4 linked regions of the Homo sapiens genome follow. The protein of the gene in region 1 interacts with the protein of each later gene in a pairwise test. Each region holds a gene or a part of one and is shown in the gene's direction. Other genes may lie near its edges.

The links. The genes of interacting proteins can lie anywhere in the genome.
Region 2: the proteins of SOX30 (region 1) and NUDT3 interact in a two-hybrid assay, tested with the Homo sapiens proteins (one large-scale study listed by BioGRID and IntAct).
Region 3: the proteins of SOX30 (region 1) and DCAF4 interact in a two-hybrid assay, tested with the Homo sapiens proteins (one large-scale study listed by BioGRID and IntAct).
Region 4: the proteins of SOX30 (region 1) and FBXO38 interact in a two-hybrid assay, tested with the Homo sapiens proteins (one large-scale study listed by BioGRID and IntAct).

What each region holds. Positions count from the first base shown.
Region 1 is NC_000005.10:157,645,939-157,649,438, reverse strand, and holds part of SOX30 (transcription factor SOX-30), read left to right. Parts: intron 1-542; coding exon 543-782; intron 783-2,622; coding exon 2,623-2,802; intron 2,803-3,500. UniProt on the Homo sapiens protein: Acts both as a transcriptional activator and a repressor. Binds to the DNA sequence 5'-ACAAT-3' and shows a preference for guanine residues surrounding this core motif. Binds to its own promoter and activates its own transcription.
Region 2 is NC_000006.12:34,382,670-34,386,169, reverse strand, and holds part of NUDT3 (diphosphoinositol polyphosphate phosphohydrolase 1), read left to right. Parts: intron 1-3,500. UniProt on the Homo sapiens protein: Cleaves a beta-phosphate from the diphosphate groups in PP-InsP5 (diphosphoinositol pentakisphosphate) and [PP]2-InsP4 (bisdiphosphoinositol tetrakisphosphate), suggesting that it may play a role in signal transduction.
Region 3 is NC_000014.9:72,929,464-72,932,963, forward strand, and holds part of DCAF4 (DDB1- and CUL4-associated factor 4), read left to right. Parts: intron 1-101; exon of another isoform or gene 102-293; coding exon of another isoform or gene 294-357; exon of another isoform or gene 358-501; intron 502-3,500. UniProt on the Homo sapiens protein: May function as a substrate receptor for CUL4-DDB1 E3 ubiquitin-protein ligase complex.
Region 4 is NC_000005.10:148,435,958-148,439,457, forward strand, and holds part of FBXO38 (F-box only protein 38), read left to right. Parts: intron 1-2,374; coding exon 2,375-2,541; intron 2,542-3,500. UniProt on the Homo sapiens protein: Substrate recognition component of a SCF (SKP1-CUL1-F-box protein) E3 ubiquitin-protein ligase complex which mediates the ubiquitination and subsequent proteasomal degradation of PDCD1/PD-1, thereby regulating T-cells-mediated immunity.

The sequences.
Region 1 (3,500 bases):
TTGGTAAGAGCTTCACCTTCGTAGTGAAATACAACTAATATAGTATTACAATATTATAAATAGTTTTGCTTGAAAGGACACAAGAGCAGCATGTAGATGAGTTCCTGTGAATGTTTAGAGAACCTCTACCTAGCTAAGATTATAGTCACGAGTAAGTCATGCATGGTTCCTGTTCCTTAATGGTAGAATATTTTTAGTAGTAAATAAATAAATGTTAATTATTGTTAGAGGTACTAATAATACAGATCAAAGAAGTAATAAGCCAACAATTTACTCTCTTCAACATGATTATTGCCACAGTTATCTTCAACAATATTATCCTCTTTGAGGAAAAGGAGTCATTCTAAACTACAGTTCAGAATGATGAGTTCAGGGGATGTAAGGAATTGTGGAATACTGGCAGGTTTTTTTGGTTATATTGAAGTGTATATTTCCTCCAGATATTTCAAAAATAAGTATAGACGGAGGTGCACTTTACCTTAAAATTGTGTGTGTGTGTGTGTATGGCACATTAATTTAGCCTTTTAATTTTTGTCATGTAGGCATACCAGATACTCCCTTCAGTAAGGACAGAAATGGTCATGTGAAGCGACCCATGAACGCATTTATGGTTTGGGCAAGGATCCACCGACCAGCACTAGCCAAAGCTAACCCAGCAGCCAACAATGCAGAAATCAGTGTCCAGCTTGGGTTAGAGTGGAACAAACTTAGTGAAGAACAAAAGAAACCCTATTACGATGAAGCACAAAAGATTAAGGAAAAGCACAGAGAGGAATTTCCTGGTAATCAAATTAAATAATGCCTCTTACTTCTTTTAAATGAATTTATTTAGTTAAAGATTAGGGTAGGTTGAGATTGAAAGACAAAAATATATAATTTTTTTCTGATATGTACAATAAAGAGAATAATGACTAATATTATAACAATGATTGAAATGACACTGGGCATGAGTTTCCTTAAATAGAACCAAGCAAAGGGATATCTGATTTCATATTCACCAACTCATACAAATCAGAGGACACGCAGTTTTATTGTGGTTTTGATTTAGATAGATGTAAGTTTAATGAAAGTACATCTTGAAAGCTTTAGGCTATAATTTTGCAAGTAAACTATAGAAGTGTTAAAATGATAGCAACAGAAAAAAAATGCAGTCTACGCTTAATGAGAATGCAGGGATTGTCACCATATTCCATTTTAACATATGATTGTCAGAACATAGTCCTGCCTTCTGATTGATAGATTTAGCCCTGTCATGATATAGTGTGAAAGGAGTCCGATTTCTCCCTAGCAGTGGGAACATTGGGATTAAGCTTGGAAAATGCACAGTGCATGGCCAGCATGTCTGTGCAAGGTGGGACAAAACTTATTATTTTCTGAAATATTGGCAGAGAGGTTCTAGTAATGAAGGTCAGAGGCAGCAACTACAGTGAACCAGTGATTGTTCTGATTACACAGTGGCTGCAAATGCCATAGTTCCACTGTTCTGACTTTGGAAGAAATTAAGTTATTTGTGGACTTGGAGATTGCTGAGTTTAGGAGAGTGACTCTTCTTGAACTAGGCACAAAATTAGTGACTGATCAGCCAGGCGCGGTGGCTCACACCTGTAATCCCAGCACTTTGGGAGGCCAAGGTGGGTGGATCACGAGGTCAGGAGATCAAGACCATCCTGGCTAACACAGTGAAACCCCATCTCTACTAAAAAAAAAAATAAAAAAATTAGCTGGGCATGGTGTTGGGCACCTGTAGTCCCAGCTACTTGGGAGGCTCAGGCAGGAGAATGGCATGAACCCAGGAGGTGGAGCTTGCAGTGAGCCGAGATCGTGCCACTGCACTCCAGCCTGGGCGGCAGAGTGAGACTCTGTCTCAAAAAAAATAGTGACTGATCATTAGTGACTATTGCATTGTAAGATATAGATGATTGTAACTTACAGAAAGTGAGGAAATGAGATGAATAATGTCATAGTGAGGCATTATTTGATAAGGTGGAGGAAAGGCTTTGGGATTCAAATACAGCGGTTTTGATGTTGACTCTACTACAGGTTCATTCTGTGTCATTGGTTATAAAACATTTGACCCTTGGCCAGGCGCAGTGGCTCTCGCCTGTAATCCCAGCCTTTGGGAGGCCGAGACGGGCGGATCACGAGGTCAGGAGTTCAAGACCAGTCTGGCCAACACGGAGAAACCCCGTCTCTACTAAAAATACAAAAAATTAGCCGGGTGTGGTGGCATGCACCTGTAATCCCAGCTGCTCAGGAGGCTGAGGCAGGAGAATCACATGAACCTGGGAGGCGGAGGTTGCAGTGAGCCGAGATTGTGCCATTGCACTCCAGCCCGGGCAACAGTGCAAGACTCCGTCTCAAAAAAAAAAAAAAAAAATTTGACCCTCTTCTTTTCAATGATGAGTTATAACATTGGCCACTAGTCAGGAGCTATTTGGATATGTATGTTAAAATACACAGTGGAGAAGTCATTCACTGAAATAATATCCCGGAGCTGGAAAAGATACTTTAGACAATAATTTGTTTTTAAAACACTTTAAAGTGCTTTGCATTTTAGTATGAAAAAAATTATTTAAAGGCTAAATGGAGTCTACACATTTAAACATATTTTGTCTTCTATAGGTTGGGTTTATCAGCCTCGTCCAGGGAAGCGAAAACGATTCCCTCTAAGTGTTTCCAATGTATTTTCTGGTACCACACAGAATATCATCTCTACAAATCCTACAACAGTTTATCCTTACCGCTCACCTACGTACTCTGTGGTAATTCCCAGCCTACAGAATCCCATCACTCATCCAGTTGGTGAGTTAGTTTTATTGTAGATTACTATTTTTTAAATAGCTGCAAGAAAATTTTACCTCAAGTTTGAAGTGTTCTTTCTGTTAGTCTTAAGAATTTGGAACAACAATGTTAAGAAAAAAAGAAGAGGGAAAGTGAGAACATTAAATAGGAGAAGGAAAAATTTCAGTAGAGATCAAAACACTTGGTTTGCCAGAGTAGCAAATAATCCATGTGTAAAACCTCAGACCTTTTAAGCAAATCAGGATGAGCCCATAGATTAGGCAGATAATGCAGGAAATAACTGAGGTAATTCAATAGGAAAAAGGAGAGTCTTTTTACTAACAGCATAAAAGACTGCCTTGCTAATGGGGTATGAGGCATCCTGTCCTGGAACTTAGTAATGATACTGATTTGTTGAGACCATTCTCTCACTGCTCTAGAAAAGCAGTGGAAGTAATCTATTTTCTACCAAATATTTGTTTGGTTCATTATATTAATCTCTCTAAATGTCTCCTCTGAGTTCTTTACATTCCTGTTACTGATTTTAAGAACCAAAAATTGACAACCTAATATCTTAATAACTTGTTATAGGGCTATCCATCATTGGTTTGTTTTTCCAGAACAGTTTTTTTTTTTTTGAGATGGAGTTTTCGCTCTTGTTGACCAGGCTGGAGCAATGGTGCAATCTCAGCTCACCACAACCTCCGCTTCCTGGGTTC
Region 2 (3,500 bases), on another chromosome or scaffold:
CACTGAATGCTTGGCTGTTACACAGCAGGCTGCTGGGTCTGGTGTACCCCAACCAGGTGGCCTCCCAGCTGCCAAATTGTGTGATTACAATTAGTTACCTCTATTCCTTTATCTGTTTATGTTCATTGTACTTGTTATTGTAATTGTGCAACTTAACCAGTGAACTTTGAGTTCAGAAAAGAACAAGGCTCAGCATGGTGGCTCACGCCTATAATCCCAGCACTTTGGGAGACCAAGGTGGGCGGATCACATGAGCCCAGGAATTTGAGACCAACCTAGGCAACATGGTGAAACCCCCTCTTTACTGAAAATACAAAACTAGCCAGGCACGGTGGTGTGCAGCCTGTAGTCCCAGCTACATGGGAGGCTGAGGCACAAGAATTGCTTGAACCCAGGAGACGGAGGTTGCAGTGAGCCAACAGCACGCCACTGCACTCCAGCCTAGGTGACAGAGTAAGAGTCTGTCTCAAAAAAAAAAAAAAAGAAATTACTGCTCACTTATATGGACAAACAAACTGAGAAGACTGGAGAGGGGATCTTAAAAGTCTAGAAGGACTCTGCACATAGATTACTTCATGAATGTTTTTAGGTTTTTGTTCTTTATAAAAACTAGGACTGGAAAACATAGGTCATTGATTATGGATGTGGCATATGAAAGAAAGACAACTTAACAATTCAAACAAACAAAACAAAACAAGATCTTGGCCCTACAAAGATTACCAAATAACTACATGTTTATATACATATAAAAGATTTATTTGCTAATAATATGTAATATGGTCTCGAACTCCCGACCTCAGGTGATCCGCCCGCCTCGGCCTCCCAAAGTGCTGGGATTATAGGCATGAGCCACTGTGCCTGGCCATATTTTTTATTTTTTGTAGAGATGAGGTCTCATGTTTCCCAGACTGGTCTGGAACTCCTGGCTCAAGTGATCCTCCCTTCTTGGCCTCCCAAAGTGTTGAGATTATAGGCATGAGCCATCACATCTGGCCTGATTATTTAATATTTTCATTTGCTTCCTCTTTGCACATAATATATAATTAGTAATATATAAAGTATGTATATATAAATGTATATTTATCTGCTAATCTTTGTTCTTAGGGCCAAGATCTTGTTTTGAGTTTTTTTTTTTTTTTTGGAGGCAGGGTCTTGCTCTGTTGACCAGGCTGGAATGCAGTAATGCGATCTCAGGTCACTGCAGCTTCCACCTCCCAGGCTCAAGTGATCCTCCCACCTCAGCCTCCCAAGTAGATGGAAGTACAAGTGCCTGCCACCTTGCCCAGCTATTTTGTGTGTGTGTGGAGACAGGGTCTCACTATGTTACTCAGGCTGGTTTTGAACTCCTGAGCTCAAGCGATCCTCCCACCTCAGCCTCCCAAAGTGCTAGGATTACATGCATGAGACACCACGCCCAACCTACATTTATATTTTTTAATCAACCGTATCCTTTACTTGATACTTTATCATACACTGTGTGGAAGACTGTAACTTCTTGAGTAAGATTTTATAATCCAAAATTGGGTAATATGATATTCATCTGTCATATTATTCAACTTTGGCCCTGCTAAAGTACTTCCAGTGAGATTATCCCTCTTCCCCCAGCCTTTCCTTTTTTAGAGCCTCTGTGAGGAGAAGTGAGAGACAGGGATGGGCTTGTTTGTACTCTTAGAAAGGCCAAATGATACAGAACATACAACAAATGACATCACAGTGCCTAGGAAAGTTAAAGCTGCTCCTAACGGGTCTGTTTTTACCCAGGGAGAAAAATGACTACTAATAGGATTGTGTGAGTTAGATTTCCCTGTGCCTTAAAGCTGTTTTAATAAAGAAAGGATGAAGCTGTTCCTAAGTTGTTAGGTTCGTTTGTTGTACTTTTCCACTAGAAGCCCTATATCTCTTGGCAAAGGGGAGCTGCTTCACATTTTCTCAGATCCTTCAGCTCACCAGGTTGGAACGGAGAGATGATTGACATTGGAGCTCTTCAGTGGGCAGAGACTGGTGGCCTGTTTGTCTGTAAAATGCCCCAGAGGAGCAGGTGGACTGACGTCTCTGCAGACTGCACCTTCCAGCAGGCTCTAGAGAAGAGAGTAAGACACAGGTAGCAATCCCAGAGGCAATAATCATGACAAAGGGCTTCCAGCAGATCCCAAGGTGGTTTGGGAGTCCTTTTGTAACACATCTTGGTCACCGTTCAATATTACATTGCTCTAAGATCATGATGGGTTCATTGATCCCGTCATGACTGGACATTTCTGCTTCTCATTTCTCAAAATCTTTCCTGGAAGCTTTTTTCCCCTGCTTTCCCTTCTGTTTGCCTAATACCAGTTAGTCATGTCTTCCATTACGTTATTTTTTGCCTCCTTCCCAAGGTGTGAATTCTGGTCTGAATTCATACTGCAGTCTCCATTCTTTTTATGTCTTTGCCCCAATCCTACTTCTTTGTTTCTGCTTTAATTCTCATTTCTCAATAAAAATAGTGCTGCACATCTACTGTGTGCTGTGTCTGAAGCAATCTATATCTTCATAGCCTAGTACAGAAAGGAAGGGCCCTTGTTCAGGAATACAATTGTTTATTCATTTCTTCAGCACACATTTTTGGAGTGTCTGTGTAAGACCTTGGGAATACATGGATAAATAAGACTGCTCAGCATTTTGGGAGGCCTACGTGGGAGGATCGCTTGAGCTGGGGATGTCTAGGATGTGGTGAGCTGTGTTTGCATCACTGCACTCCAGCCTGGGCAACAGAGTGAGAGAGACCCTGGCTCCAAAAAGAAAACACCATAAAATGAAATGATCCCTTAAATAGACTTCCTTTGTATACAATTAGTTGATCTCTTTGTTCATAAAACAGTAAAGTTTTATGAACTGCTTAGAAAATCTTTTCTTCGGCTTGGTTATTTAACATATTTCTGATGTGTTTTGTAAGAGCAGCTTAGCAATGATGAATAAAAAGGAGTATGAGCTCAGACATAGTGCTTATGCTTTTCTTAAAAGGAGGAAGGATTGTGATTTTTCTTTTTTCCTTTTTTTTTTTTTTTTTGAGATGGAGTCTTGCCCTGTCACCCAGGCTGGAGTGCAATGGCGCCATCTTGGCTCACTGCAACCTCCGCCTCCCAGGTTCAAACGATTCTCCTGCCTCAGCCTCCCGAGTAGCTGGGATTACAGGTGCCTGCCACCGCACCCAGCTAATTTTTGCAGTTTTAGTAGAGATAGGGGTTTCACCACCTTAGCCAGGCTGGTCTCGAACTCCTGACCTTGTGATCCACCCTCCTCGGCCTCCCAAAGTGCTAGGATTACAGGTGAGAACCACCGCGCCCGGCCTTTCCTTTTTTTTTTGAGACAGGGTCTTGCTCTGTCATCCAGGTTGGTGTGCTGTGATGCAGTCATGGCTAACTGCAGCCTTGACCTCCTGAGCTCAAGCGATCCTCCTTCCTCAGCCTCCCGTGTAGCTAAGATTACAGGCATGCACCACCATGCCTGGCTAATTTATTTTTAGT
Region 3 (3,500 bases), on another chromosome or scaffold:
AGGCAGGAGGATCGCTGGAGGCCAGAAATTCGAGACCAGCCTGGGCGGCAACAAAGCGAGACCCCGTCTCTACAAAAATATTTTTTATTTTTATTTTATTTTTCCGTCAAGCTGTTCTTTATTTCAGGAAGAGGGCAGGGGAGGGGGCTCAGTCTTTCTTGGCAGCGGCTTTCCTCATGGCAGCCAGTACCTTGCTCAGCTCCTCCCGCTTCCTCTTGGCACGGATGTGCGTCCCCACCCTTTTCTTGATGAACTTGAGGGCCCATTTCTCCTTGAAGACCTTCAGTGACTCCATGGCGCGCAGCTCGTACGAAGCGAAGCCACACACCTCCCGGATCATGTCCCGCTACAAACTTGGTGCGTTTGCTCAGACGCCCGCGGCGGCGGCTGTGCCTGGGCTTGCTCACGTTCTTGGTCACCTTGTGGCCCTTGTTGAGGCCCACGGCCATAAGGTAGCGCAGAGCCATGGCTGCTGCTCTCCATGGCGGCCGTGGCGGAAGGCCAAAAATATTTTTTAAATTAGCCTGGTGTTGTGGCTCGTGCCTGTAATTCCGGCTACTCCGAGGTTGAGGCAGGAGGACGGCTTGAGCCGGGGAGATGGAGGTTGCCGGGAGCGGAGATCGCGCCACTGCACTTCAGCCAAAAGGGGGGTAGGAGGGAATAAGTAAATAAAATTAAATAAATAAAGTGGTATCTCACTGTGGTTTTGATTTGCATCTACCTAAGGACTAATGATGTTGGGTATCTTTTCATGTGCCAGTTGGCTATTTGTGTAGCTTTTTCTTTTTTTTTTTTGAGACGGAGTTTTTTTTGTTTGTTTTTGAGACGGAGTTTCGCTCTTGTCGCCCAGGCTGCAATGCAGTGGCACCATCTCGGCTCACTGCAGCCTCCACCTCCCGGGTTCAAGCGATTGTTCTGGCTCAGCCTCCCAAATAGCTGGGACCACAGGCGCCCGCCACCACACCGAGCTGATTTTTGTATTTTTAGTAGAGACGGGGCTTCGCCATGTTTATCAGGCTGGGCTTGAACTGCTGTCCTCAAGTGATCCGCCAGTCCCAGCCTCCCAAAGTGCTGGGATTACAGGCGTGAGCCACTGTGTCCGGCCCTAAATAATGTCTTTCGATGCACGGAAGTTTTCAATTTTGATGAAGCCCAATTTATGTGTGTATGTGTGTGTGTATATATATATATGTAGTGTGTGTGAGTTTTGGGTGTCATATTTGAGAAATCATTGCCTAATCAAGATCATGATGATTTATACCTTTGTTTCCTTCAAAGAGTTTTATAGTTTTAGATCGAGATCCATTTTGGTTCATTTTTGTCCCATATGGTATGAAGTAAGGATCCAAATTCATTCTTTTGCAGTTTGATATTCAAATGTCCCAGCAGTTGAAAAGACACTTCTTTCTTTCATTGAATGGTCTTGGCACCTAGATGAAAACCAGTTGACCATAGATAGGCATATGGGTTTATTTCTGGTCTCAATGCTACTCCATTGATCTATATTTCTATCCATATGCCAGTAACACAGTGTCTTGATTACTGTAGCTGTGTAATGAATTTTGAAATTGCGAGGTGCGAGTCATCCCAACTTTGTTCTTTTTCAAGATGATTTTGGGTATTCTGGGTCCCTTGCATAATATGAATTTAGGATCTGCTTTTCCATTGCTAAAAAAATGGCATTTGGAATTTTGATAGGGATTGCATTCAATCTGTAATTTCTTTCAACAGTGTTTTATAGTTTTCTGTGTACACGCCATATATTAATTTTGTTAAATATATTCCTAAGTACTTTTTCTCTTTTTTTTTTTTTTTTTTGTAACTGAGCCTGAGCAGGACCAGAGGAGTGCTTTATTCTTTTTGATGCCATTGTAAATGTAACTTTTCTTTCATATTCAGGCTGTTCATTGCCTGAACCAGTGTATAGAAATACAACTGGTTTTTCTATATTGATCTTGTATCCTGCAACCTTGCTGAATTCATTTGTGAGGTCCAGTAGATTTTTGGTGGATTCTTTAGGATTTTCTGTATATAAGATCATGTTTGGTTGCCTTTTCTTTGTCTTGCCTAATTGCCTGTCTAAAACTTCCACTACAATGTTGAACAGATGTATTGAGAACCAACATCTTTGTCTTATTCCTGACCATAGAGGGAAAACTTTGTCTTTGGCCACTAAGTATGATGTTAGGTGTGGGTATTTTGTAGATGCTCCTTATCAGGTTGAGGAAACTACCTTCTGTTTCTAGTATGTTGAATGTTTTTTTAATCATGAGAGGATGTTGCATTTTGTCCAGTGCTTTTTCTGTGTATCAATTGAGAAAATCATGTGAGGTTTTCCCCATCTATTAGTATGGTATATTGATTGATTTTCATATGTTGAACCAACCTTATATTTCTGAGATAAATCGCGCTTGGTCTTGGTATATAATTCTTTTTATATGCTCCTGGATTTTGCTTGCTAGCATTTTGTTAAGGATTTTTGTGTCTCTGTATTCATAACCCATACTGACCTATATTTTTCCTTCTTTTTTTTTTTTTTTTGAGAGATGGAGTCTTGCTCTGTTGCCCAGGCGGGAGTGCAGTGGCATGATCTCGGCTCACTGCAACCTCTGCCTCCCAGGTTCAAGCGATTCTCCTGCCTCAGCTTCCCAAGTAGCTGAGACTACAGGTGTGCACCACCACGCCTAACTAATTTTTTGTATTTTGGTAGAGATGAGGTTTCACTCTATGTTGGCCAGGCTGGTCTTGAACTCCTGACCTCAGGCGATCTGCCTGCCTTGGCCTCCCAAAGTGCTGGGCTTACAGGCGTGAGCCACTGCACCCGGCCTTGACCTATATTTTTCTTCCTATATCTTTGTCTGATTTTGGTAACAAGGTAATACTGGCCTTATAAAATGATTCGGAAAAATGTAGTAAATATCTTGGAATCATTTTTGTAGGAGCAGTTCCCAGAAGGAAGGCATGTACATTTGTAAGTTACTTGATAAATATTTTCCAGTCATTTTCCAAAAAACCAAATTGTGTTTATTTGTGATTAACATTGCCTTTGCAGAATAGTAGTCTCTTAGAAATTATAATTCTTAATGCCTTGAGGTACTTAAAAGTTTCTCTGAAAGACAAAGGCAAGCCCAACCTTCTGCAACACACCTGATTTTAACATCTAGAGCAGCTCCAAAGGTGCTAGATGCAGCATGTTACCAGCAAATTGTTTTCGAGTGCTTCCTACATAGAACAGGTTTTCTCAGCTTTAGCACTGTTTTGGGCCAGGTAACTCTTTTGTTGTTGTTTTTGAGATGGAGTCTTGCTATGTTGCCCACACTGGTCTCAAACTCTGGACTCAAGCCATCCTCCCACCTCAGCCTCCCAAGCAGTTGGAACTGCAAGTGTGAGCCATCACACCCAGCTGAATAATTTTTTTTTCTTTCTTTCTTTCTTTCTTTTTTTTAATGTTGTTTGTTTGAGACGGGATCTTGCTATGTTGCGCAGGCTGGTCTTGAACT
Region 4 (3,500 bases), 9.2 Mb from region 1:
ATTTATTAAGTTCACTTATATTGGTGCAGTTTGTGGCACCCCACAATTAAAACAGTAACATCAGAGATCATTGATCATAGACCACCATAATGGATAAAATAATAATGAAAAAGTTTGAAATACTGCAAGAATTATTAAAGTGTAACCCAAAGACTCAAAGGGAGCACGTGCTTACTAAAAAAATGGCACCAGTAGATGCTCAATTCATGGTTGCCACAGACCTTGTGTAAACAGTGTAATGTCTGCGAAGCACAATAAAGTGCAATAAAATGAGAAATGCCTGTATATGTATATATATACATGACATATGCACACACCCACACACACAGTACAGGGTCTGACCTCTAGTAATGCCTAGTGATGTTAATTTGTATTATGTTAGTGCACGTTGAGCATCTCTAATCTAAAAATCAGAAAGCCCAAGTGCTTAAAAATTCAAAACTTTCTGAGCACTAACATGATGCTCAAAGGAAATATTCATTGGAGCAGCATTTCAGATTTCAGATTTTTTTGATTAGGGTAAGTATATAATGCAAATACTCCAAAATTTGAAGAAAAATCTGAAATCTAAAACACTTCTGGTCCCAAGCATTTCAGATAAAGGTTCGTCAACCTGTATTGCCAAAAAATATTGAGGTCTATTTTGTTTTATATCTCCTACCATATTAGTAGTAAACAAAGAAATCCCATTAAAAGGTATTTACCAAACATATTGTCATAAACTGAGGAGAACCCAAGAAAGGAGAGATGAAACTGAGATTCAAGCACTACTTCTCCTCTGAATTCTACAAAAGTTCAGACCTTGGGGACCCCAGACTCTATTGTTTACTCTGAAGTAGTAGTACTTTTCTCTATCCCAGCCAATGTGGTCTTTGGTCCTAAAACATCTTAAATTACTATCTCCTATTGGAGTTTCCTTTTACAGTGGAGAACACAGGCTCTTCAAAAGCTCAGAGATTGTAACAGTAGGGGTACTCACCCTAGCCTTACAGTAGCACTGGAAGAACTTTCATTCTGTCAGTACCTACACCCTTTGAGCTCTGAGAATGTAAAACTCAATCTTCAGACTCTGCCAGTCGGCATCTCGTTCCATTCCTTTCTCTACTCTGAGCTCTCCGAGAATCTGACTAGTTTTCTTCTTTTTACTTTGATGATTTCTCCTGTACCTTCTCTAACCTAATGATGGATCACACGGCCTCAGGCCCAACCTTCTCCCCTTTAAACCAAATTGTTTGGCTCAGCTTATCGTGGTGAGAGGATCTTAGCTTAGTCTGTAGGTAGTGGCTAAGTTAATGACAGCGGAGATGATTAAATGAGATTAGAACTGACCTTAGTCATGTCGGATTTTATAGCTAAGAACCACTGGATCCTTACTGTCATCTAGCGCTCTCCTTTCCTCTGTTGCTGTCCTCAACAACAGTTCCCCTTCTTTCCACCAAGTCACAAAAGGAGAAAATGAACGTGAGAGGCGGGAGTCTCTCTCAGTGTTTAAATGTCAAGTTAGTTACATTAGATTGCACAAGACGATGATGACATTTGGGTCAAGGATGTTACAGATGTCTGTGAAATGTTAAGATCAGACAAATGAGCCTGTGGTTTTATAATCTTTTCCATTTGATCTCTCTCAAGTTGGACCTGGTTGAAATCTGCAGTGAAAATTGGACCAGGTTGAAATTGGAGATTAAAAAAAGAGAAGGAAATATTTTTCTGAAGTTGATATACTAGTTCAGTTAAATGTGTTTATTATATCAAAATTACTTTTTTCTGACTTCATGTTTTATATGTCAAACAGAAAAACTAATCATGTTTTAGATGAGCATTTCAATAGAACTTTAATGTTCTGTGTCTACACTGTTCAGTATTATGGTAACCACTAACCACATGGCTACTAGATTGGACTGAATAGCTTTAGACCAAAGTATCCAAATGTGTTTCTGGGTCTTTTTTTTCAAGGTTCTACTTTTACGTTTGTGACAGGAATTAAAATCCAACTCTGCTCATTCCTGAGAGTGAATGTAAGGTAACATAGGTGAATTATTTCAGGTCTGACTATTGACTATAAAAATGTATAATAGTTACTCATTTTTTAAATAAATATTTCCTAAACAGTTTCTGTCTGGGCAAGTCATTTTCTGAGACTTGGTTTTCTTAACAGTAAAATCTTAGAAAAAGGCACTTTAATGCCCCTTCTACCTTCTTTTGAATTGAACAGAACCACATTTTCAAATTTTTTTGTTAACTGTGATTTGTACTCTATGATATTATTTGACCTCTGTTAAAGATGTTTGTTACTGCAGTATTTTGTGCCAACAAAAATTAGGCCATCTCTCCAAAGATGATATGTACGGAGCTTACCATTGTTTTCATTTTGTAGCTACCAGGTGCAGGGTACTAAAACATTTAAAGGTAGAAAATGCACCAATTGTAAACCGATTTGACTATGCACAGTGCAAGAAACTGAACATGGATCAGGTACTAGACCAGATACTAAGAATGCCACCCGAGAGAAACCGCATCATATACCTACGCCCAATGCAGCAGGTAACGAGCTTTGCTTCTTTCCGATGATACACATATTGTGGTGTTTTTCTTTTTCTTTTTCTTGTTAGTCTTTAGCCTTTTGGATTTGGCATTCATTCACTTGCCCAACCTACAGTAATGATATTTTAGTTTTTACAGGTTATGTATGATATAGGGAGTTGTTATTCAACAGGTTTTTATACTTATTAAAAGTTACCTGTGGTTTAAGAGCACAGTCTCTGGTTCAGACTGCCTGATTAAATTTCTGGCTGTCTGACCTGTAGCAGATTATTTGACTTCGATGTCTTAGTTTCTTCATCTGTAAAATTAGAATAATAATGATATACCCAGGATTATTGTGATATTTAATATATGTGAAACTCTAAAACATGTGCTAGTATATAGTAAGCCATCATATAACTACTGTTAGTGTCATTATCATTATTAAGAGTATATTGTATATAAGGTTCTGTGCTTAATGCCAAAAGAGGGTTTAAAGGAAATTTTAAATGCCTCTTTGTAATCAGTGTGTAAGCCTGGCCTCAAAAGAGTCAGTTCATCATATTGTCAAGTGTCTCAAAACTTAAAATATGCTGGGTGCAAATAAAAACACAACACATGATCCTTCCCTCAAGGAGTTTGCCTTCCCAAAAAGGAGACAAACACTTATGCCACGCAGATGGCCGAGTGAGATTTCATAACTAGAGATGGGGGAGGGTATGCCATGAGAAAAAAGCAATGTTATCAAAGGCTCCTAGAAGACAAGAAAATGCATTCTCTCTTAAAGACTGGGCAGCAGTCTCATTTGAATAGGGTATATGTTACTACACATTCACAGTTCTATAATGCAGTCAGTACTTAATAAAGGACATACACAGAAGTGGATTCTGAGTTGACTGACGTCATTTATCTCAATCAGGATTCTCTGGTTTAGTAGGCATTTAAATATAACAGTGAGATATAAATTGCCAAGTTCCCTA